Homo sapiens: one gene and its partners. The protein of the gene in region 7 interacts with the protein of the main gene of each other region in a pairwise test. Each region holds a gene or a part of one and is shown on either strand. Other genes may lie near its edges.

Region 1 (3,500 bases), on a different chromosome or scaffold from region 7:
TGCTATAATCGTAACCCCTAAATTCATTGATTTGGTTCCTATGTAAATGTGGCTCCCCTACACAGTTTACTTTGGCTGTGTTCTGTTACACAGCATCTGTGAAATTATCAGATGACCTTGGGGTGAGCAAATCCCTGGGCAGAAATCAAATCCTCTCCAAAGATGTAATTATTGGCACCTGCCTCAACCCTCTGGAACTAGATTGACCTTCTCTGTTTTAAGGAGGAAGTTAGATATGAGACCCTTGTTGAGCCTGGCAGAAAATTCCATACTTCTGATCCTTGGAGTGACCCTCAGTGTCTAAAAATCCTATTAAAAACGTTGCTGCGTGAGCTACTCACTTGTTTGATTAACATGAAAGGGAGTTTAATGTAAACAATACTTCTGGATAACCAAGCGATCACATTACTCATTCTTTTTTTCTAGCCTTCTTCAATGTGATACATTTAACTTTGGCTACTATCAAGAACAAAAGAAAATGTAGTACTTGATATTTTTCTTAATATAAGTACATTTAAATAATTAAAAAATTATCAACACATAAATGTCTGAACATCAAGATACATAAATATCTGGGGATTCCTTGTGGGAATACAGTAGTTAAAAATGACCCAAAGCTGTAGCTGTTTCTCAAAAAAACAAAACAAAACAAAAAAAAACAACTACCCAAAAGTCCAAAAGAAAAGTTAAATAAAACTTAAAGAAAAGGGAATCATATTTCTTTCCATGGTCAAAGCAAGAAAGAAGCAAGCTCAATTTATATATATTTATATAAACGTATATAAAAATAAAAACCACCCAAATGCAAATACGCATTTTGCAATTGATAAGGTGCGGAAAAATTAAAAATAAGAATTAGATGCCAAACAGGGCGAGTTGCATCCCTCCTCTCCCCCCACCCCAACCAAAATTCCACACTCTTTGGAATAAACAACTTGGTTAAAAAGTTAAGTCAAGGGTATAAAATCTTTCTTTTTATTCACAGCATTGCTAAATCAGAAGCATTCACAGTTTCCCTCCGGGAATCTTCCTGTTTGCTTTCCAGCGCGTCCCCTGGGTGCTGGGGCCGGCGGACACCCTCGAGGTGCGTCGCCTCGGACACCTCCGCGAGGGCCGGGGCGCCAGCAGACGGCGGCGGCGTGGGCTTCTGGGCGCAGGAGGCTGCGCGGGCCTGACCTACAGCGAGATCCTGGCCGTCGGGCGCCCTCGGCCCCAGGACGGTGGCCGGGCCCAGGGCCCGGGATCCCGGCGGGCTTGTCGCGAACAGGAGGCCCGCGCGCCCGGAGGCGAAGGCGGCGGCCCGCGGGGCCCAGCCGGGCCAGGCCTGGCGCCTCAGTAGGGCCTCCACACGGCCTCCTCCAGGCGCGCGGAGGGCGCCATGTTGGTGGGGGAGTTGCTGTGGCTGCCCTCGGCCTCCACCACGTCGCTCTGGTTCGGGAGGCTGGGGTTGAGCAGCGCGGAGCCGGTGGAGGCGTTGGTGCAGGGCGGCAGGATGCGCGGCGGCGAGCGCTCGCCGCCCACCATGGAGAACTGGTAGGAGCCGGCCGAGGCGCCGTAGTACAGGTGGTAGGAGGGCGAGCTGGCTTGGAACGGGCCTCCCTGCGCTTGCGACGAGCCGGGGTAGGGCGGCGGCAGGTAGGTGTGGTAGCGCGTGGCCGAGCCCATGGCCGACATGCCGATGCCGATGCCCGAGGTGACCGGCGTCGGGGAGTAGGTGAAGGCGCCTGGATAGTGCATGCGGGGGTCGGAGATGGAGGGCAGCGCGGGGAACTGGCGCGGGTCGCTGAACGCTGTCAGGTCGGGTGCCGCTGCAGGGCGGGCAAGAGAACGGAGCGGAAGTGAGTAGGAGGTTGCGGAGGCCACAGCTCTTCCCTCTGCCCCAGGGGGCTACCCAGGATGATACCGCCTAGGAGGATGGGAAGCCACCCAGGATGCTACTGCTGGGGAGGACGGGGACCACCCGGGATGCTACTCCCAAGAGGACGAGGATTACCCAGGATGCTATACCCAGGGGGACAGGGACCACCCAGGATGCCACCTCCTGAGATGACGAGGATCACCCAGCATGTCACCTCCCAAGAGGATGGGGACTACCCATGATGCTATGCCCAGGAGGTCGGGGACCACTCAGGATGCCACCTCCTGAGAGGACGGAGACCACCCAGGATGACACCACCTGGGAGGATGGAGACCACCCAGGATGCTACCGCCTAGGAGGACGGGGGACACCCAGGATGCTACTGTCCAGGGAGATGGGTTTCTATCAGAATTTACCGCCCAGGAAGATTGGAACCACACAGGATTGCTACCACCTGGGAGGATGGGGGCTACTGAGGATGCTGCTGCCTAGGGAGAGGGTTTCTACCCAGAATCTGCCACCCAAAAAGATGAGGTCACCCAGGATGCTATGCCCAGGAGGACGGGGATCAGGAGGCTGCTACTGCCCAGGAGGATGGTATAATATACAGTAATATAATACGGTAATATAGAATATCATGTAATGTAATATGACATGATATATGAAATGATGTAGTATAGCATAATATGTATAGTATAGATATAATGTGCAATAGTATATACTATAATATGTATAACGTATATAAAATGTTGATATAATCCTAGGGTTGGCAAACTGCAGCCTGCCAGCCAAATCTGGCATTTTTGCATGTCCCAGGAGGTAAGAATGCATTTTACATTTTTTAAATGGTTGAAAAAAAAATCCAAAAAAGAATACTTCCTGACCTGTTAAAATGACAGGAAATTCAAACTTCAGTGTCCATCCATACTTCGGAACACATCCTCACTCATTCTTTCATGTACTGCCTGTGGTTGCTTTAGAGCCACTACTGTAAAGTCAGGTGGTCAGTATAGGGACTGCAGGAGCCACAGAGCAAATATTTATTCTTTTTTTTTTTTTTGGAGACAAAGTCTCGCTCTGTCACCAAGGCTGGAGTGCAGTGGTGTGATCTCGGCTCACTGCACCCACCACCTCCTGGGCTCAAGCAATTCTACTGCCTCAGCCTCCCGAGTAGCTGGGATTACAGGCGCCCGCCACCAGGCCTGGCCAATTTTTGTATTTTTAGTGGAGATGAGATTTCACCACGTTGGCTAGGCAGGTCTCGAATTCCTGACCTCAAGTGATCCACCTGCCTCAGCCTCCCAAAGTGCTGGGATTACAGGCATGAACCACCGTGCCCAGCCCTAAAATATTTATTCTCTGGCCCCTTACAGAAAAAAGTTTGCTGACCCTCTATTTGATCAATATATTAATATACCAATAATATAAATTAATCTGTGATATTAATATAGCAGATGATAATTTGACACTAATGTAAAGGATGCACAAATATGTTACTACTAACACAATATGTTATACATAATATATATCCTAACAATATTAATATATAATAATACATTACACATAGTATTTAGGTTGAATGATAGAAAATTGCCATTTTTATAGGCCTTCGACAGTTGAAAAATTGATAATTTCCTAGTAT
Region 2 (3,500 bases), on a different chromosome or scaffold from region 7:
TTACATGTAAACAATTTAAAGACTTTATGTCTCAGGGGTTCCATGTTTGTGAAATGAGAAATAATTATAGCTGCTGCACAGGCTTGTCAAAGAGGATTATATAAAGAGCCTTGGTGTGACCCCTAGCCATGTCCTTTTCAGAGTACGTGGCTGGAACTCTTAGCTCCTTCAGTCTGACATTGGAGATGACTAGAGACCTTGAACCAAGTGCCCAGGAGGCAGAAACTCTCCAACCACTACATCTCTGTGCTGGCCTCCAAGAAGGATTGCCCACATTGTGGGAAAGATCATTTTTATTCTCAGAAAGGAGCCCCTGGTCAAATAACTTGCTTGGAAGCATCTGGGTTTCCCCAGTGGGCTATCAGCTGCCTCCAATGCTGAGAAAACAAAGTGTCACATCGCTCTGCAGAACTATAAAAAGATGTTTGTTTGCGGGCTGTTTGGGGAAGGAAAGTGCCGGCCCCAGCTAGCAGCTCCCACAGCACCCTTAGCTGGGCCTTGCCCCAGGGTTTTGTTTTTCAGAGCTCACCAAGGTTTGCTGAAGATCTAGAAGGGATTTTGGGGAGGGGTTCTGGGTTTGACTTGAGGTGGATGTGCCCATGCTCAGGTGGCCACAGCTAGAGAGTGACAGCGCCAGGCAAGGGCATGGCAGAAAGCAGGAGATGGCGACATTCTTACTTTGGCTGATGAGCTCCTGTGACCTATGATTCATCAGCAGCAGATGAAGTTGTTGAATGACTCAGATAAAATAGGCGGTTCAGGGCATTTCGTAGGGTGCATTTCTTACTATACAGCTTATGTATCCCTAGCGTCCACCGTGAAGGCTGCTTGGGCCTCAGTCTGGGGTCGTTCCCCATTGTCATCAGCTTGCTGCACTCTGGTCTAAATGTTTCTGCTGAAGCTGGACCATGGTAGATGTGGGTGTAGAATCAGCCATGGCTGGATCTGAGCCTCTGGCAGCGGTGGCTACTTGAGCAAGCATGTTCCTGAACCTGTCTGGGCCCCACTTGAGCCTCATTTATGACATAGAGATAAGATAGCACACACCCCCAATGTCATTGAGAGGATTACATGGGATAACCCATGAATAGTGGCTGGCATGGAGTAATACTTAGCGAGTGTTAGCTGGTGTTGTATTAGGTCATAGACTAAGCTGTTATTGAGGTAGCAGCATTATCTTGGGGTTTACTCACTGTCTTCCGCACGTACGGGTGATGTATCTGATTACTCTGAGCACTAAATAATCTAAAAAGCTGGTGGCTTGCACCTATGGTCCCAGTTATTCGGGAGGCTGAGGCAAGAGGACTGCTTGAGCCCAGGAGTTAGAGGCTGCAGTGAGCTATGATTGCACCACTGCCCTCCAGCCTGGGTGACAGAACAAGATCCTATCTCTTAAAAAAGAAGAAAAAAAATCTGAAAAGTGAATTAGAAGGACTGAATTTTTATTTTAAGAAAATGCAATATGTGATTTTATTCAGCCCTGAAACCAGTTTGTTCAGACATTAGAGTTAGGCATTTTACCTGCTCTGCATAGCTACAGAATAATACTAGTGGCAAGGATGGGGAACACCTAGAACTCTTCTGCATTGCTGTTGGGAATGTAAAATGCTGCAACCACTTTGTTAACCACGTGCTTACCCTATGACTGAATGACTCTACTGCTAATACTTAAAAGAAATTTGTGCTTGTGTCCACTAAAGGTTTCTTTTGTTTGTTTGTTTTTGTGATGGAGTCTCACACTGTCACCCAGACTGGAGTGCAGTGGCGTGATCTTAGCTCACTGCAACCTCCACTTCCCAGGTTGAAGCAGTTCCCCTGCCTCAGCCTCCAGAGTAGCTGGGATTACAGACACCCACCACCATACCTGGCTAATTTTTGTATTTTTAGTAGAGATGGAGTTTCACCGTTTTGGCCAGGCTGGTCTTAAACTCCTGAGCTCAGATGATCCACCCACCTCGGCCTCCCAAAGTGCTGGGATCACACGTGTGAGCCACCGTGCCTGGCCTAAAGGTCTTATATAGGAATGTTCATCCCAGCTTTACTCATAATAGCCAAAAACTGGAAACAACCCAAATGTCCATCAACAAGACAACAGGGTAAATAAATTACACCATATTCATGCAAGGGTATACTTACATAATGAATAATAACTAATAAAAACAAAAAAACAAACTACTGGTTTGTTTTTATTATTTATTTGGTGGATACATTTCAAAAACATTATGTTAAAGGAAAGAAGCCAGGTATGAAAGAGAACATACTATATAATTCTGTTTATATATATATTTCAAGAAAAGGCAAAACTCATCTTTACTGATGGAAGGAGAAGTTAGAGTGGTTGCTTCCGTAGGGATTAACTGGGAAGTGGCATGAGGAACCTTAAGGAATGGAAATGTTTCATCTTGATCTAGGTGATGGTTGGATGGGTATATTCATACTTAAAAAAACAACTGAACTGTACAGTTAATATTTGTACATTTATTGAATATTTCACCTCAATTCTAAAACTATATATATATAAAGGGCTAGGTGTCATATCTTTCCATTATACTTACATATACCTAATAATACCTAATATTATACCTAATAATAGTAATTATAGTTGCTTACTGATAACAACAACTAATAACACTTATTGAGGCCCTACTCTGTGCCAGGGATTTTCTAATCACTTAATTCCCTAACACATTATGAGGTTTTATTGTTTTCTCCAATTTTACAGACAGGGAAACTGAGACATGGAGTAGTTAAGTTCATTTACCCAGTGTAACACAGCTGGCAGTCTGGTTTTAGATTTTGTCCAATGCACACTGTGTGGCACTGCCCAGGAGCATAAGCTCCTTGTCACCGACCCTCTTTCCTTCCTGCTTAGAGATGTGCTGAATTTCCTGCGCTCAGGGGACCTCCCACCCAGGGAGCGTGTTCGAGCTGTGTACAAAGAGGCCCAGTACTATGCCATCGGGCCCCTCCTGGAGCAGCTGGAGAACATGCAGCCACTGAAGGGCGAGAAGGTGCGCCAAGCGTTTCTGGGACTCATGCCCTATTACAAAGGTGAGGGTCAGCTGCCCAGGATGGTGGGTATGTGGGAGGAGGTCTGCAAGGCATCTGTGAGTGTTTAGGTCTCCATCAGAACACCGGGGGCAGCATTCATCCAGATTACTCAAGATGCGATGGAGTGTCATCCCTTCCCAGTCACGCTGGGGAGATTCAGGTTAAGGTGGGCCTACCTGGCCTATGACAGTTAGCAAATTGTATTTCAGAAGGACAGCCCTCGTCCCATTGGCTTCCCTTTGCTGTGGAGAACCGTGACCCTTGTTTAAGTTTGTGCCCTTCATTGGCCCCCTGAGTCCCTTCCCCGGGAAATCTGTCTTTCCCCTCCTGCATCCTGCCATCTTCAGGACTGTTTCTCTGTGCATCTCTGCTGCCCTGTCCTGCCTCTTCACCCTAGTGATAGGTGTTGTGTTCATCCTTATAGACCACTTGGAGCGGATTGTGGAGAT
Region 3 (3,500 bases), on a different chromosome or scaffold from region 7:
GCACTTTCCAGGGCCCTCCCGCAAGGCCCTGCAAACTAGAGATAAGGCCGCAGCAGTCAGTCAGCTGGAAGCAACTAGGGAGTACCTCTCCACGCCCCTCCCCCAGTGCTCACACACCCAACACCAAAACCCCAAACCACGGGTGCATAAGATGGTCTTCACTAACTATTCCAGCCCATACTAGGGTGAGGGGAATGTCAAGTTGAAAGCCAGCTGCCCCCAGGGTCAGCCTTCTCTTTTGCTGTCTGACATTCACGGTGCTCTTTCCCCTTCAAGAAGTGCCCTTTGAATGCCTACCCAAGACTTTTCCTCCTTGGATAGGTCAAATGCCATCTCCTCCAGAAAGTCTGCTCTGTCCACCCCAGACCATAAGCATCTCTCCCTTCTCTGAGACCTCACCTATGGCAGTGTTACTACTTCCTGTAAGCTCACTAACAGTTCTGCTCACTCCTGTGGGTAAGGCATCTTCTAGACCGACCATAGAGTTCCTGAGGACAGATCTGTGTCCCACCCCTCCATCCAACCCCAAGTACAGGGGTAAGCACACAGCAGGGCTCAAAAAAAGTAGAATGCAAGTCCCAGACATCTGAGCAGCAGTCCTGAGAGTGGAGAGAAAAATTTCCCAGATGAGAGAAGCAGAGAGATTAATTGTACAAGGGAAAATCAGGAACAGAGGTGGGGGTGGGGAGCAGGCAGAAAGGAGAGATTTGTACCCAGGGACTGAAAAGCTCTCCTACACCAAGTTCCCATCATTGTACCCCACTATCCCATTTCACCAAATTCTCCTAAGAATTGGGATCCCTAAGAAAATCCTGGTTCCCTGTGGTGGGCGGGATGGCTGGAAAGGGCAGAACACCAATCGCAACCTGCACTATCCTACCTGCAACCAACCTTGTCAGAAGGTACAACCTGCACTAATTTCTACCCTTCTTTCCTCCACCCAAGCCATACAGATTCAGGAGGGGCCTTTTCCCTAGCACCACCACTTCCAGGTCATCCCAGTTGCCCTCTTGACCCCTTGCCCTGGGGAAGCCAGGGGATGACATGATGCCCTACTTGACCCCAGCATACCTGGCATCTGCTTATTAACCCCAGAGCCCTCTCAGTTCCCACCCTGTCAACAAGACGCTCTATATTCACTCCCCTGCCACCCAGCCAGTCTGGCTCTAGACCATGGCTTCAAGCTGACTCATGGGGCAGGACTGCAGGGGAGGGGGGCAGGGCAGAGTAGGCCAAGCCTCACTCTTCGTTCAGGGGGTGGGCAGCAGCTGGCATCAAACAGCTGTGCCAGGCTGTGGCTGGCAAGGACTACAGCTCCCAACATGCTGAGGGAGCAAGGCCAGCAAAAACAACAAGTCCCAGAATACGTCTGTACCTTTAGACACTTTTGAGGCCTGGGAGGTGGGTGAGGTGGGTATTGGTATAGGTATCAGCTTCAAGGCTCATTCTCCCCTTCCCTTCAGTATTAAAGATTTCCATTTCTACCATGATCAAGGAGAGTGACAGGATGAATTCCTATCCATGTGCTTTCCACCCTCATCCTATGCAAAGAGAACTGCTGCCAGCTGCTCTCTATTTTGTCCCTACATACATCCACACAAGCTAGGGGGGCTGTTCCCACGGACCACCACTGTGGGTAGGAAGGTCGACTTCTTCTCTCTTACCAACCCCTCGGCCCCCAGCCTAGAGCCCTCTATCTTCAGAGGGGAGAGAGCAGACCTTAGCAGACTCTCTAAACTAAGCCAGGCAGACTCACCTGACTCCTGGACTCCTTCTTCTGGACGATCCCTTACCCCCTGCCCAGCCTCCCAGGTCCCTTCTCACTCCTCTCCTCCCCACAGCCTGGGACAGGCCCCATACTATACTGGAGCTTCGGAGATTTGCTCTTTCCCTCTAGCACACTCACCCCGCTCCCAAATTGGCTCCGCGGAGGTGGCCGCTGCTCCGGGCCCTTCCGTCCCGTCCCGTCCCGGTCCCTCCCCTTGGTTCCCCGGTCCTCCCTGCCACGGGCCCCCAACCCAGACAAAGGGTGGCTCAGGCTGAGCCCTGCTCTGCTAGGCTCTTCGCTGTTCAGCTTCGTGTGCAACACTAGCGGGCCCTGGCGCCCGCAGCCCCCCAGCCGCTGCCGCGCCCCTCCCTGCGACGGTCCCTCCCCGGGGCCGCCCCGGCTCCGCGCCGCCGACTCCACTGCCCCTCTGACTCACAGGCCATTTCCTACCAGCTGATGGGGCCGCCCGCCCCGCCCAGTGCCCCACCACCCGCGCCGCGGCGGCCACGGCCGCCACGCCCCCCTCAGGCTACGCCCTCCCTGGAAAGCGACCATGCTCATTGGTCCATAGGAAGCCAGCCTCCCCGCGACCTCAAGTGCGAGGCACGCCCCCTCCAAGAGGCACACGCCTATTGGTCCATAAGGGGGTAGGCTTACCCAAGGTCGCTCCGCCCTTCTCCTTAACCCGACAGCTGCCGGAGTCCAAAGCAACACCCTGCCCTGCCATTTAACCCTTTCAAAGGCGTAGGCCTTCCACATCTTACCCCTCCGCCCTACTCCCCCGCCCTTCCTCCTTCCAGGACGGTTAATAGGAAGCCCGAGGGCTTTAAAGATACGGTTTGACAACCCTCAAAGTCTGCCTGCTGTCTATACCAGACCCCAGACCCCAAATACCTCACTCCCATTTGTCTTTCCCCACCTTCCAAACCAAAGCTTCAGAGCTGGAGAACTAGTGAAGCCCAGGAAGCTTCCTCCATGCCAGAGAAGAAAAAGGCCTGAGGTGGGACCCTATCTCCTTCCATGTTAAGAAGTGGTACTTTTCCCTCTGTTACTCTTAAATTGATGTTCTTTTGCCTTCTTTAGAGGAGCCCCACGGGTTCCTAAGATAGGGATACATTTTAATCTCAGGGACCAGCATTATTCTTTGTGCCTCTGAACTCCCTTTCTGAGATCAGCCTGCCAGCACTCTTTCTACTCACAGGCCCATGTTCAAGGAGACAGAGCATACAGGGAAGTGGGATAGGAGAGCTTCTGCCCAGAATGGGGGAAATGAGCCCAACTCTTGTGATGGAGCTCAACCCCATGACTCACAGCTCCCTCAAAACTATCCACCCTCCCACTGAGTCACTGGGCCCCAGCCCAGTTCAGACCCAGTCAAATCAAATGGCAGCAGAACCGGCATCCCTAACCCTTGTCCTCCTATTCTTTAAATGACCAGGATGGAAACCTTTGCAAGGATTGAGCATTCAAAGACACTTTCTAGAGGGTACTCTAGAGGTAAACTAAGAAAAGCAATAGTCCTGTCTACCCTGCCCTCTGCACTTGTCAGCAAGTCGGATAATTTGGGACTTAGGAGGCTTTTTCTCCCGGTCCTTCACAGAAGCAGGAGGCAAACACCAGAGCCAAAGAGGGAAAGTCCATTCTTCTACAGTTCAGAGGCCACAGAGAGCCCAAGGTCCTTGTTTCTGCCTTGCCTGTGCTGTGGACCCCCCAGGGCCCTGAGGTTATATCA
Region 4 (3,500 bases), on a different chromosome or scaffold from region 7:
CTTCTCGGCACTGACCACAACTCCTTCCACTTCCACAGACTCGCTGCCTTCTGCTTGTGAGGTCACATCGCTCACTTCATCCTGAGGCTCAGGTGAGCTCAGGGGCTCAGATTTAACCACCACTCTCATGTGCTCCTTCTCACCAAGGCCAACCTCAGGGTTTTCACACTGAAAACTACTTTTCTCAGGTGCAGCTTCCTGATCAAAACTAGTCTCAACCTGAGTTGCACGAGAGGCCATGGACAACTGTGCCATGTTGCCAGCACTGTTATCAGACTGGCTGGGCACCTGGGCATCTTCTTGAGTGCCAAAAGACTGATCAAACATGATCGCACTATCTTCCTGGTTATCAGTCATTCCATCAGCTTTAGGATTATCCACAATTTTCAGAGAATCTGGTGAAAAGAACTCCTCCCGAGAATGAACCCCTGAAGGCCCATTCTCCGGTGTAACATCTGAAATGGCAGACTCATCTATGGAGGGTCGGAGGCGCTGCCTGGCCCGCTCCTCTGCAGACTGCTTGCGCTTATGAAGGCGTCTCATGGGGAAGGGCGTGCGCTGATCCAGGTTACTGCGCATGGAAGAGCTCATGGGGGCTGGCTGCTCCTCGCCATTCTGGCTGGAATTGAGGGCTGAGCTCACGATGCTTAGTCCCAGCTGCTGTAGCATAAAGGAGCGCTGCATGCGGGCGCTCTGCTCCTGAACGCGCTCACTGGGGGGAGACATGGGCAGCGTCCTTGTCGTTAAGTAATGTTTACATGCCTTAACAACAGAGTTCAAATGCAGGTGAGAGGCTGCCAATAAGACATCCATTACATTGCTCTCCCCCAGCATGAGGGTGGAGGTATACATCATGTCAATCAGTGCAGCAAAGGCCTCTGCTGTCACCACCTCGCTATCCAGCTGGATCATGTTCATGGTCTGATCTCCTTCTGCCACTGAGAACAGGGCTCGGAAATGCGTGCTGCATGCTGCCAGCACGGAGCGGTGGGCTTTAAAGTGTCTATTCCCCACTACAATGACACAATCACAGAGCTGGCCATGAAGTCTCTGGTAGTTCAGCTGCTGGAAGATTTGTTCAAAGTGACCAGGAAAATCCATGATCCTACAGAAAAACAAAGAAAGAAAATGTTAAGACCTAGAAAAGCTTCAAAGTCAGAACACAAAGGGTATGATGAAAAGAGTGGAATGGATGGCCAAGCTTGGACCTTTGAAGCCCGTGATATCTCTGATAATGGGCACATACACTAAGAGCTTGTCATATAAGAAGCAAATGGCAATTCAGCCATCAGCCCAGGAGGCATGCACACATGTGGGCCTAGCTACCGACAGGCTCCCCTTTACTCTTCATATGAGCCATGTATAACACTAAGGGTCTAAATTAGTAAAGACCAGTGTGTGAGTGATGGCATATCTATCCCACAGAAGTTTGTTAGAATTCTGCATTCCCTAAGGATGAGGAATGAATACCAAGAAATTCCAAAGTCTTAGGAACCCTAAATAAGTGAAAAGGGCAAATCAATATTAGTGTGGAAGATTTCCAGTTATAGATGGTAGCAGATTGCACACACGCATTTGCCCCGTGCTTTTTCCTGAAACCCCACTAAAATGACACGAAGCCCGGCATGGAGGCTCATGCCTGTAATCCCAGCACTTTGGGAGGCTGAGACGGGCAGATCACCTGAGGTCAGGAGTTCAAGACGAGCCTGACCAACATGATGAAACCCTGTCTCTACTAAAAATACAAAAAATTAGCCAGGCATGGTGGTGCATGCTTGTAATCCCAGGTACTCGGGAGGCTGAGGAGGCGGAGGTTGCAGTGAGCTGAGATCACACCACTGCACTCCCAGCCTGGGCGACAGAGTGAGACTTCATCTCAAAGGAAAAAAAAAAAAAACACTAAAGTTTTTGTTTAAACTTTAAAGGTGTAAACCCACAAGGAAAAAGAGAATGAGAAGGCCTTCAATAGCATTTTGGAAGCTGGGGAGAGGTAAATGAGTGCTAACTGACTCAGCACACCCCAAAAGCGAAAATCCTAAACTGGGCAGCGGATAAAACAACCTAACATATATAAATCTCATTCCCAAAGGCCAAGGAACTGGTTGCCCTTGCCAGGGGAAATGGAATGAAGGTGTGGCTAAGGCAGGAGGCCTGGCTGAAAATCTATCCAATTAAAAAAAACAAAAACAAAAAAACACCAGGATGTGGTGGCGCATGCCTGTAATCCTATAGCACTTTTGGAGGCTGAGGTGGGAGGATTGCCTGAGCTTAGGAGTTTGAGACAAGCCTGGGCAACAAGGTGAAACCCTGTCTCTACCAAAAATACAAAAAATTAGCCGGGCATGCTGGTATGTGCCTTCAGCTACTCAGGAGGCTGAAGGGGGAGGATCACTTGAGCCTGGGAGGCAGAGGCTGCAGTGAGCAGAGATCGCACTGCTGCACTCCAACCTGGGTGACAGAGTGAAACCTGTCTCAAAAAAAAATTAGCCGAGCATGGTGGCGTGCACCTGTGGTCCCAGCTACTTGGGAGGCTGAGGTGGGAGGATCACTTGAGCCTGGGAAGTCAAGGCTTCTGTGAACTGTCACTGGGCCACTGCACTCCAGCCTAAGCAACAGAGCAAGGCCCTGTCTCAGAAAATAAAATAAAAATAAGTGAATGAATAAGAGAAGGAATTAATCAGGTCCAATATCTTGACTACAGAAAGAGAAAAGGAAGAATACAGAGGGTGAAAATGATGTAAGAAATGGTTTTTTGTTTTGTTTTTGAGACAGAGTTTCGCTCTGTTCCCCCAGGCTGGAGTACAGTGGCGCAATGTCGGCTCACTGCAACCTCCGCCTCCCGGGTTCAAGTGATTCTCCTGCCTCAGCCTCCTGACGAGCTGGGATTATAGGTGCACGCCACCACACCCGGCTAATTTTTGTATTTTTAGTAGAGACAGGGGTTTTACCTTGTTGGTCAGGCTGGTTTTGAACTCCTGACCTCAGGTGATCCGCCCACCCTGGCATCCCAAAGTGCTGGGATTACAGGCATGAGCCACTGCGCCCGGCCAAGAAATGGTATTTTTTAAATTTTGAGAACTGAAGAAATTTGCTTATTAAGACTAAAAAGGCCCAACAAGTACTCAAAATATGAAGATACAAATCCCCACACTAGGCTGACATCAGGAATAAAATTGGCATTCGTCTTTGCCACAGCAGCACTAAAAGCTAGAAGATGACAGTTCCTTCAAAATTATCCAAGAAAATGATTTCCAACTTAGAATGCCACACCCAGCTAAACTATTAATCAATTAGGATAAACTAAGGCATTTTCAGATAAGAACCCAAAGGTTTATCCTTTCTCAGGAGGCGACTAAGATTGTAGGAAACAGGAGACCCACCAGAGAAGACAGGCAAAGGGAATCCCAAGGATGATGATGAAGCTCCAGATGACAACTAGGCAGCAGGCCTGGAGAGCAAAAGCAGTCAGACTGGAGCAGGAAGGACTCCAAGGAGTGGGT
Region 5 (3,500 bases), on a different chromosome or scaffold from region 7:
AGGAAAAAAGTGCCCCAACAATTGGGGATTAAAACCAGAAAATGCAAAGGGAGGAAACATTCCAGGGTGAAATTTAAGAAAAAATAAATAAATAAAGAGAAAGAAAGAGGAAAAAAAAAATAAAGAGAAAGCACAAAGCCCATGAGGCTGCCTGGTTAACCATGGGTTAGAATTAGGTTTAGAGAATCACACAGTAACTCAGTGTCTCAGCAAATCCAAAACCCCAGGGTGAAAGACATGGGTGAAATGCATTTCTGATTGTGGAAACGGCAAGTTTCCTTCTTTCATTTATTGTCTATTTATTTTTGGTCTGTTTATAACCCAAATTTGGACCATCAGTCACTTTTACCTTCCCAAGTATTTTCATCTTTGCAGAGTCAAAGAGCAACAAATATGGGGTCCAAAGGACCTTTCCCACAGCCAATTCCAATCAGTCCTTCTCTCCCAGGGTCACAGGGTGCATGGAGCAGACACTGTCAGCAGGACATGCCACATACACAGCAAATCGCCAAACCAGACTACGTTAAAGGGATTCCGGGGAACTTACTTGTACTTGTGCTGGTTCCAATCGTATTGATTGTGGTGGGGACAGATGAGGAGGAGTAGAGGGGCACATGGCCATTCTCACACCCCATGCTTTTGTCCTGCCAGTTGGAGGCATTGATGCAAATCCCAGAATCCCGAGAGTTCTGCCACCCATTGAGCTTGTCATCAGAGTTCTGTCTTTGGTGATAGTAGTGTGTCTGTCCATAATCCACAGAGTCTGAGCGGCCTCGGTTCTGGCCACCAAAGCTGGTCGACGTGCGGTCCTCCAAGTGATTCAGCCACATGGCTAAAGCACTACGGTCTTCTAACGAAGTGGCTGGATGTATCAAAGCATAGGACAGCAGCTGCCTGCTCTCCTCAATGTGCTGGTTGTGTTCAATAGAGTGAGCCAGGATTTTGGGCAGCAGTTTCATATATTCTACTTTCGCGTCGAGGTTTCCTGGCTTCAGCAAAGGCAGATGAGTTAACAGGAGGGAAATCACTTTATCCTTGGATTCCTGTTGCCATTGGTTAATGATTCCTGAAAAGGGAAATATACACGGCAAATAAGCAAATACACCCACAGTGACTCTAAACAGATACTCTAAAGAGAATTTTTATGGATTAGGGTCCCAATCTACATAGTCTGGCTATATTTTCTCAAAAGAGCCTGTGAATCAGATTGGTTAACTGACCCCAGGTTTTCAAGGGCCAGAGGCTCCAATGAAACACAGATCAAACATTCTTAGATATTGAGTACTCAATCAAATTCTCATTCGTGTTTCCAAAAAAGCTACAACTACTTTGGTACAATCAAATACAATGTGCAGCTCTGTTTTCTTTCTGAGAAAGGTCTAGCCTACCCCCTGATAGACAGGGGGCTAAGACTAAGAAGCTCTCCATAGAAAAGTGAGTATGAACAAAGGTCCCATTCCAGAGTCCTGGGGGTGAGGCTGCTTCACCTCCCCCAGACATCTGTTGAAAGTGATTTAAATCCTGGTAAAGGCATTTGTGTGAAATTGGAAAAACTTCCTAGATGGAGAAATTTGTCAGGGAAAAAAAGAGCTCCCCTCATCTCTGTGCAGTAAGACTGCACCTTTCTCATGAGAAGCTAACTCAGAGTGACTATGGGCTCAAAGCTAGAATATGCAATGGACCGAAGACTTGGCTCCTGAGACACCTCTAATTGCTGTTTTGCTTTATGTAGAGATCAGCTTGTTTTTATTGTGGTAAAATACACATAACATTGATCATTTTAATCATATTTAAGTGGATGTTCAGTGGCATTAGGAACATTCACAGGCTGGGGGTGGTGGCTTATGCCTATAATCCCAGCACTTTGGGAGGCTGAGCCAGGAGGATGGCTTGAGCCCAGGAGTTAGAGACCAACTTAGGCAACATAATGAGACCTCATCTCTACAGATAATTAAAAAAGAAATAGCCATGTGTGATGGTATATGCCTGTAGATCCAGCTACTCCAGACGCTGAGGTGGGAGGATTGCTTGAGCTTCAGAGGTCGAGGCTGCAGTGAGCTGTGATTGCACCACTGTACCCTGGGGCTTGGGTGACAGAGGAGACCTGGTCTCAAAAAAAAAAAAAAAAAAAAAATTCACCGTTTCACAGTGGTGTGCAACTATCACTACCATCCATCTCTAGAACCCTTTCATCTTCTCAAACTGAAACTCTAACTACTCTAGGTACCACAGAGAAGTAGAATCATACAGTGTTTGTCCTTTTGTGACTGCCTTACTTCACTGAGCATAATGTCCTCAAGTTTCAAGCTCTGGGAAGATCTGTTTTTAACACACTCAGAAGGATCCTTTCCATCCCCTCTCACTGATTAGCCTTTGAGAAATAGCCTGTCTTGGGATTGACAGTTATTCACAGGCTCTGGGCCAGAGGAAAGAAAGCTCATTTTCAGGGAAGTCATTCCTGACACCTGGAGATCTCAACACTGGCCCACTGATGACCCTACAAGGGCTAGGGCTGGACAGTCCTGCTGGTTTTTATGCCATATCTAGAAGGTTGGAAGGGGTTTCTGGAATTTAGCAGAAGGGCTTAGCAATTCCAGCTAGGTGCAAACATAACAAAACAAGCCCAGTTATCACTGTTGACCATAAGCTACAAATGCATCAGCCTGTGCTGCAATGCTTCTCAAGACTATGGGAAAGAATATTTCAAGAAAAATACCAGCAAAAAAAGAGGCATGGTATATAATGAAAGAGCATGAGCTTTGGAGTCAGGCAAAGCTGGACACAAATCCCAGACATGCCATTTAATTTGTGGTAGAACCTTGGTAAGTTACTTAACTTCTCTGAGCCCCAAATACCTTCTCTGAGCCCCAAATAGCATCTGCCCCTCCATGTGCTGTGGGATTAAATAACGTAAAGTAGCAAAAGGGCTGGTCAAGTACTTGATGATGGAGGTAATTCCTTCAGCTTGTCTCTGCATAGCTGGAATCATGTTAGAGCAATGTGGGTGGTTTGGGATGCCAAGTTTTAAAAAACAAAATATAGAGAAACCAGAGATGACCCAAGAGAAGTCACTAAAAATGATCAAGGAGGTAGAAAGTCAAAAGGTGAAAAGAAAATGGGTTTACTGTGCTTACAACAATATGAAGAGATGCTTGACTCACTTCAAGTGGGATTTCATAAGGAGATGCCAAAGAGTCAACTACTTGTAGAAGTCTCCAAACCGAAGCAGGAGAGATTAAGATAGGACGTGGAGAAGAACAGAATTGCCAGAATAATGAAAGACTCAGAATCACCAAGGAAGGCTTTAGAATCTCTGCCCTGGGGTCTGAATGTTATTCAGTAACAGAGTGAGACGATCTTGAGGAGCACTGTCCAACAGTAATAAAATATAAGCCATATATGGTATTCTAAACTTTCTAGTAGCCATATTAAAGAAGAGACAGAATAAACAGGTAATGTACATTTTAATGATATATTTTATTTAAATAATCAAATTATCA
Region 6 (3,500 bases), on a different chromosome or scaffold from region 7:
CATCCAACGAGCTCTGAACACCATCAAGTTTTTGTAACTCACTTGACTACAGAACTGATCTGAACTGACCTCATCTGGCCACAAAACCTGAACTGATTACGAGGCTATTTACTGTTTTTATTTCTTCATACATATTGCCCAGAAAGATTAGGAAGAGTGTGTAATCACGTAGCAGAACTGGCACTCTCCAAAGCATTTGCCTTGCCGCATCTTTTAGTACTGTCCTTGGTTTCATATTTCAGCAATGACAGAGCTTGGACCAGCAGAAATCTCCCTTGTCTCTGTCCCTTCCAGGAGTCCACAGGAACTGAGGGGAAACAGGCAGAAGGGCCTGACAGATCCTTCTGGGTGCGGTTACAGCCCCTGAAACGCCTCCTAATGCTTGACTCTGGCTCTGAGTGCCTCCCTCCAAAATGGCAGCACAGAGTTTAATTAATCACTCTCCTATTGCTCCACAGAGCGCATGTCAGTACATGTTTCATTTCATTAAAAAACAAACTACTCAAATGGAAAGATTTCACTTAAAAAAAAAGTTTTCATCCAATGTCTGCCAATGGAAAGTTTAATTGGCCACTGGGTCATTTTTCCAGTGCTCGGTCCAAGCCTCAGACACAGCACACTTGGTGATGTGAACCTCAACATGTAGCGTCTCCCGAGGCAGTCTTTCCTGGGCATTTGGAGCCAGGGGACAGGGCATAAGCTGGCCCATGCAGGGTCCTGGCAGACCCACATGGTCAGGCTCCTTCTCGCTCTCCCCTTTCCTGTCTGCACCCCTCCGCTCTTCCCCACTCCTCTTCTTCTCCTGCTTTCTTCTGCCCAGACCTCTCAAAGCAAGGGGAGTATATGAAAACAATTCCACGCACTGGGCCAAGTGGAAACATACCAATGAGGGCTTTGCCAGGAAAGTGGGATATTTTGACAATGCACTTGGCTGACAATGACAATTGGAATGGGACTAGCTCTTTTCCAACCATCCATAAACCAGGACCTGCAACGGGCTGACCTGCAGACCTGGCAACTTCACAATGTACCTCTGCAACAATAACGGTGGCAATCAAGATATGCCCACTCAGCAAGGCTTGGGCTAGTTTTTATTTTATAAACAATAGCTAAATTGAATGGATTGTGTTAATTCAGGGTGAGTATCCCTTCTCTGAAATGCTTATGATCAGGAGTGTTTTAAATTTCAGATTTTTTAGGATTTTGAAATATTTGCATTATAGGGCTGCTCAACCAGTAAGTTGAGCATTCCCTTTGCGTGTTATGTCAGTGCTCAAGAAGCTCCAGATTTTGGTGCATTTTGAATTTCATATTTTTGGATTAGGGATACTTAACCTGTATTTAAAATACAGTATTCTCAGCTATATGAATTTTGAAAATCATGGTTTTTTTAAATAATTTTTTTTAAATGGCTTTTACTCTGCACACTAACAAAAAGATAGGTCTACTTCATTTTTTTCTTCTTAGATGGTTTCATATTTTTGTTAGAAAGAAAACTGTCATTTCCTCTTTTTAGCCACTTTTCCCCAAGACATTGGCTTTACCTAATACCTGAGAGGTGAAGGATAGTGAATAGGAAGGGAATAAACACGAGTTTGGGCACCAGGGCAGTTGGGAGAGTGTCTTGAGAGACATGGGTACACTAGAGAGAGGAATCCTTTTATTTTTTATTTATTTATTTTTTTTTGAGATGAAGCGTGGCTCTGTCATCTGGGGTGGAGTGCAGTGGTGTGATCTCGGCTCACTGCAGCCTCCACCTCCCAGGTTCAAGCAATTCTCCTGTCTCAGCCTCCTGAGTAGCTGGGACTACAGGTGCATGCCACTACACCTGGCTAATTTTTTATATTTTTAGTAGAGACAGGGTTTCACTATGTTGGCCAGGCTGGTCTTGAATTCTTGGCTTCAAGTGATCTGCCCACCTCGGCCTCCCAAAGTGCTGGGATTACAGGTGTGAGCCACCATGCCCAGCCAGAAGAATCTTTTTATTACACTTCCAACTGAGGAGGTGGACAAGAGTGCTGGAAATGTTTTTCCTTTTTCTCCTTTTTTTTTTTTTTTTTTTTTTTTGAGACAGAGTCTCGCTCTGTTGCCCAGGCTGGAGTGCAGTGGCACAATCTCGGCTCACTGCAACCTCCACCTCCCTGGTTCAAGCAATTCTCATGCCTCAGCCTCCTGAGTAGCTGGGATCCTTTTTCTCCTTTCTTAACAGAAAGAAGAGACAGAAACTTTATAAAACATGGTGTCTGAGCACATTTTAGGGAAACAATGTCATAAACAGTTTGGCCTTCCAGGTTTCCTAGTGGGAGCTGCAAGGGAGAGCATTTTTCAACAGGAGGGGAGATCCTGGCTGGCCAGTGGTGTCTGACTGTGGGAAGAGCCACGTTCGAGCAGTATGAATGTTCCCTGGTTCCCACAGAGAGGCGGCTTGGGGCTGGGGAGCCAGCAAGCACAGAGGCCACTGCCCAATTTTGTTCCAACCCTCTCCTCCTCTGCTGTTCTGCCCTTCTAGCCTCACGGGAGCCACCAGCCCCTTCTGCTGTCTCTCTAGAATTGCTCAGGAAAACAGGCCATTGTGGTGGGTCACTTTCATAGGGTACAACTGAACAGTACTCAATCCATAAAACACCTCCAGCACTTCGGGAAGCTGAGGCAGGCAGACCGCTTGAGCTCAGGAGTTCGAGACCAGCGTGGGCAACATGTTAAAACCCTGTCTGTACAAAAAGTACAAAAATTACCTGGGCATGGTGGCATGTACCTGTGGTCCCAGCTGTTCAGGAGGCTGAGGTGGAAAGATTGCTTGAGCCCAGGAGGTTGAGGCTGTAGTGAGCTGAAATGGTGCCACTGCACTCCAGCCTGGGTGACAGAGCGAGACCTTACTAGTCCGCTGTGTGGGGGTCTGCCTTCGAGTCCCTCTTTCCCAGAGCCTCCATGGAACATCTCCTTGTCAACTCAGATTTTAGGCTTTCAAACATGGTCCCCGACATAGCATCATTTCCAGTCAGTCTGCCCCAAACACTGCAACTGAGATTCTCCAGCCAAGAAGACTGTGCTCACTTCCTGCCATTATGATTATATTATCCTTTCTAAATCATGTTGCTGGCTTCCTCCAGCAAACTCAGAGGTCAAGTTTCCAACTCTCACTTTCAAACTCTGACTCTGTAGGGTTGCCAACAGTGTCTATTCTTGTGTGTGTGTTTTCTTTTCCCTTTTCTTTTAAACTTCCCTATTCCACTTCTTTGAGCTGTACATGAACTCAGTAGTCTTCCCTTTTTCCTTTTAGATTCTTTGAAAAAAAATTTTTTAAGGGACAAGGTCTTGCTCTGTCACCCAGCCTGGAGTGCAGTGGCATGATCATGGCTCACTGCAGCCTTGAACTCCTGGGCTCAAGCGATCCTCCTCACACTTCAGTCTCCCAAGCAGCTAGGACTATAGGTATGCACCACCATGCCTGGCTGATTTTTATTTTTATTTATTTTTTTTTTGTAGAGATAGCATCTTGC
Region 7 (3,500 bases):
GTGCCTTCTAATGAGCAATATCACATACTTCATACTTGAAGTTTGAGGGCAAACAGACTTTGCAAAAATAATCCAGCTGGTTACTAAACAAATGAGCAAATGACAATAACAAGCCTAAGGTGGAAAAGGTGGGACCAGTAGTACTCAGAGTTGCTAAAATGTCTAGTTTCCAACAAAGAATTATGAGCTATGCAAAGACACAGGAAAGTATGACCCATACACTGGAAAAAAAGCAGGTAACAGAAACTGATTGTGAAAGTGACCAGATGTCACATTTAATAGACAAAGACTTCAAAGTAGCCATTATATATGTTCAAATAACTAAAAAACTATGATTAAAGAAGCAAAGAAAGGTGTGTGATAATGTCATGTCAAATAGGGAATATCAATAAAGAGATAGCAATTATATATTAAAAAAGAAACAAATAGAAATTCTGGAGTTGAAAAGTACAGTAACTAAAATGAAAAATTAACTAGAGGAGTTCAATAGGCTAGAACTGACAGAAGAAAGAATTCATGAATTTGAAGATAGATCAATACAGATTATGCAATATGAAGGAGAGAAAAAAGACTGATGTGTTGGAGAAGTGTCAGACACCATTGAACACACCAGCATATCAGAAATGATTAATAACAAGGTTAATATAACAAAAGATGCAAATATGCTCTTTTCTTCTCAGATTCTTTAAAAGACATTATATAAAGTAATAAGTATAACAATATAATGTTGAGTTTGTAACATTTGTAGACATAATGTGGATTACAATAAAATCACAAAAAAGGGGAAAAGGAACAGACTTATATAGGAATAGCATTCCTGTATCTCACTGGAATTAAGTTGGTATAAATCAGAAGCTGATTCTGATGAGAAGCATATTGTTAGCCCAGCTGGGTGCTGTGGCTCACGCCTGTAATCCCAGCAATTTGGGAGGCCAAGGTGGGCAGATCACAAGGTCAGGAGATCGAGACCATTCTGGCTAACATGGTGAAACCTTGTCTGTACTAAAAATACAAAAAAAAAAAAAAAAAAAAATTAGCCGGGCGTGGTGGCGGGCGCCTGTAGTCCCAGCTACTTGGGAGGCTGAGGCAGGAGAATGGCATGAACCCGGGAGGCGGAGCTTGCAGTGAGCCGAGATCGTGCCACTGCACTCCAGCCTGGGTGATAGAGTGAGACTCCGTCTCAAAAAAAAAAAAAAAAAAAAAAGGAAGAAGAAGAAGTGTATTGTTAGCCCAAGAGTAACTGCTAAAGAAAAAAAAAGTATAATCATTAAGTTATAATGCTACATTTGAAAATATTCACTTAATGCAAAAGAAAGCAGTAAAGGTGGAATAAAGGACAAAAACACATGAGACATATAAAAAACAAAAAGTAAAAATAAAACATGTAAATCCAGCTATATCAATAATATTAAATGTGCATGGATTAAGCAATCTAGTCAGAAGACAGACTGGATTAAAAAAAAAACAAGATCCAATTATATGGTGTCTAAAGGTGGCACACTTAAGGTTTAAAGATACAAATAGTTTGAAAGTAAATGGATGGAAAAAGAAATATAATGCAATAAAGAAAAGATAAATGTTTGAGGTGTCAGATATGCCAGTTACCCTGTTTTGATCATTACACTTTATATACATGTATCAAAATATCACATGTATCCCAAAAATATGTACTACTTTTATTAATTAAAAATTACATATATGCACATATAAATACATATATATACGTGTATACACATATATATATGCATGTATACATATATATACATGTACACATATATATACATATATACATGTATACATATATACATGTATACATATACATGTATACATATATACATGTATACATATATATGTATATATATATAAAAATATGCAAAAGGCAACTATGAGAAAGCTGGAGTGGCTACTTTAATATCAGCTTTTTATTTACTTTTTATTTATTTATTTGTTTATCTTTGAGATGGAGCCTTGCTCTGTCACCCAGGCTGGAGTGCAGTGGCACGATCTTGGCTCACTGCAACCTCCGCCTCCCAGGTTCAAGCAATTTTCCTGCCTCAACCTCCCAAGTAGCTAGGACTACGGGTGTGTGCCACCATGCCCGGCTAATTTTTTTTTTTTTTTTGAGATGGAGTCTCACCCTGTTGCCCAGGCTGGAGTGCAGTGGTGCAATCTCAGTTCACTACACCTCTGCTTCCTGGGTTCAAGCAATTCTCGTGCCTCAGCCTCCTGAGTAGCTGCCCGCCACCACACCCAGCTCATTTTTGTATTTTATTAGAGACGAGGTTTCACCATGTGGGCCCGGCCGGTCTTGAACTCCTGACCTCAAGTGACCCACCCACCTCGGCCTCCCAAAGTGTTGGGATTACAGACGTAAGCCACCATGCCAGGCCTGAATTATATACTTTAAATAGGTGAATTGGATGGTAGTGAGTAAAACTTGAAAATAAGAATACCAGTTTTATGAGTAACAACTAATGGATGCAGTTTCGGTTTCTTTGCAGTTCAGCTTGTCCTTAGAGAATAAATTCCACTGAGGACGTACAGTCAAAATAACGTGAGCTAAAAGTCATTTGAAGTAATTCTTTTTTCTCTGTGGTTATGTTACCAACTTGATTGTTAGTTATTGCATTAATTGACTTTTCCTATACTGAAACAACAATTCCAGAATTTTAGTAGCTTATAATGATAAACATTTATTTCTTGCTCAGGTTCTGTGAGTCCACTCTAGTGGTTCTTCTCTAGGCCCCAGGTTCAGTTCAGGTCTACCTGTGTGTCTTCTCATCCTGGGACTTCAGTTGAAAACACAGCTCCCATATAAGATAATGTAGGTCTTGTGGAGGGCATGGGAACACAAGAGGGTTGCTAGAATTTGCAGCGACTCCTAAATCCTTTGTGTGGACTGGCACACTGTCACTTTTATCCATATTTGTTTGTTTTGCATAAAAGGTTAAATTACGTTTTGTTGTTGTTGTTGTTGTTTTGAGACGGAGTCTCCCTCTGTTGCCCAGGCTGGAGTGCAGTGGCGTGATCTAGGCTTGCTGCAAGCTCCGCCTCCCAGGTAGCTGGGACTACAGGCGCCCGCCACCACACCTGGCTAATTTTTTGTATTTTTAGTAGAGATGGGGTTTCACCGTGTTAGCTAGGATGGTCTCTATCTCCTGACCTCGTGATCCACCTGCCTTGGCCTCCCAAAGTGCTGGGATTACAGGTGTGAGCCGCTGCACCCAGCCAAATTATGTTTTTTACTTATGTGAGTTTGTAATGACACCACCACATTCACTATCCCCCAGTTCTTCCTCATTTTGCCCCATTCCATATTTTATCTTTCCTTGTCCTCGTGACAATATCGGTTCCCAATAACACTACTGTATGTATTTATTCTATTCTACAATACACACAATATAGTTTAAAAATTAAGATAGTAATATCACTACTAATAACATTATATGAAGAGTTTAAGATATTTTTAAATTTCTTTTGCTTTTAGAAAGGTACCACTA

Evidence for each region.
Region 1: the proteins of BAG4 (region 7) and RUNX1 interact in binary tests that used the Homo sapiens proteins (3 or more experiments, as listed by UniProt).
Region 2: the proteins of BAG4 (region 7) and KCTD7 interact in binary tests that used the Homo sapiens proteins (3 or more experiments, as listed by UniProt).
Region 3: the proteins of BAG4 (region 7) and ATOSB interact in binary tests that used the Homo sapiens proteins (3 or more experiments, as listed by UniProt).
Region 4: the proteins of BAG4 (region 7) and ZBTB5 interact in binary tests that used the Homo sapiens proteins (3 or more experiments, as listed by UniProt).
Region 5: the proteins of BAG4 (region 7) and SAMD4A interact in binary tests that used the Homo sapiens proteins (3 or more experiments, as listed by UniProt).
Region 6: the proteins of BAG4 (region 7) and FYN interact in binary tests that used the Homo sapiens proteins (3 or more experiments, as listed by UniProt).

The regions. Positions count from the first base shown.
Region 1 is NC_000021.9:34,790,803-34,794,302, forward strand, and holds part of RUNX1 (runt-related transcription factor 1), read right to left. Parts: intron 1,809-3,500; coding exon 1,333-1,808; 3' UTR 1-1,332.
Region 2 is NC_000007.14:66,635,381-66,638,880, forward strand, and holds part of KCTD7 (BTB/POZ domain-containing protein KCTD7), read left to right. Parts: intron 1-2,872; coding exon 2,873-3,051; intron 3,052-3,475; coding exon 3,476-3,500. UniProt on the Homo sapiens protein: May be involved in the control of excitability of cortical neurons.
Region 3 is NC_000009.12:35,109,363-35,112,862, forward strand, and holds part of ATOSB (atos homolog protein B), read right to left. Parts: intron 3,031-3,500; exon of another isoform or gene 2,968-3,030; intron 2,295-2,967; exon of another isoform or gene 2,205-2,294; intron 2,091-2,204; exon of another isoform or gene 1,907-2,090; intron 1,854-1,906; exon of another isoform or gene 298-1,853; intron 269-297; exon of another isoform or gene 1-268. UniProt on the Homo sapiens protein: Transcription regulator that may syncronize transcriptional and translational programs.
Region 4 is NC_000009.12:37,441,451-37,444,950, forward strand, and holds part of ZBTB5 (zinc finger and BTB domain-containing protein 5), read right to left. Parts: intron 1,106-3,500; 5' UTR 1,102-1,105; coding exon 1-1,101. UniProt on the Homo sapiens protein: May be involved in transcriptional regulation.
Region 5 is NC_000014.9:54,699,628-54,703,127, reverse strand, and holds part of SAMD4A (protein Smaug homolog 1), read right to left. Parts: intron 1,067-3,500; coding exon 548-1,066; intron 1-547. UniProt on the Homo sapiens protein: Acts as a translational repressor of SRE-containing messengers.
Region 6 is NC_000006.12:111,663,953-111,667,452, forward strand, and holds part of FYN (tyrosine-protein kinase Fyn), read right to left. Parts: intron 1-3,500. UniProt on the Homo sapiens protein: Non-receptor tyrosine-protein kinase that plays a role in many biological processes including regulation of cell growth and survival, cell adhesion, integrin-mediated signaling, cytoskeletal remodeling, cell motility, immune response and axon guidance.
Region 7 is NC_000008.11:38,186,855-38,190,354, forward strand, and holds part of BAG4 (BAG family molecular chaperone regulator 4), read left to right. Parts: intron 1-3,500. UniProt on the Homo sapiens protein: Inhibits the chaperone activity of HSP70/HSC70 by promoting substrate release. Prevents constitutive TNFRSF1A signaling. Negative regulator of PRKN translocation to damaged mitochondria.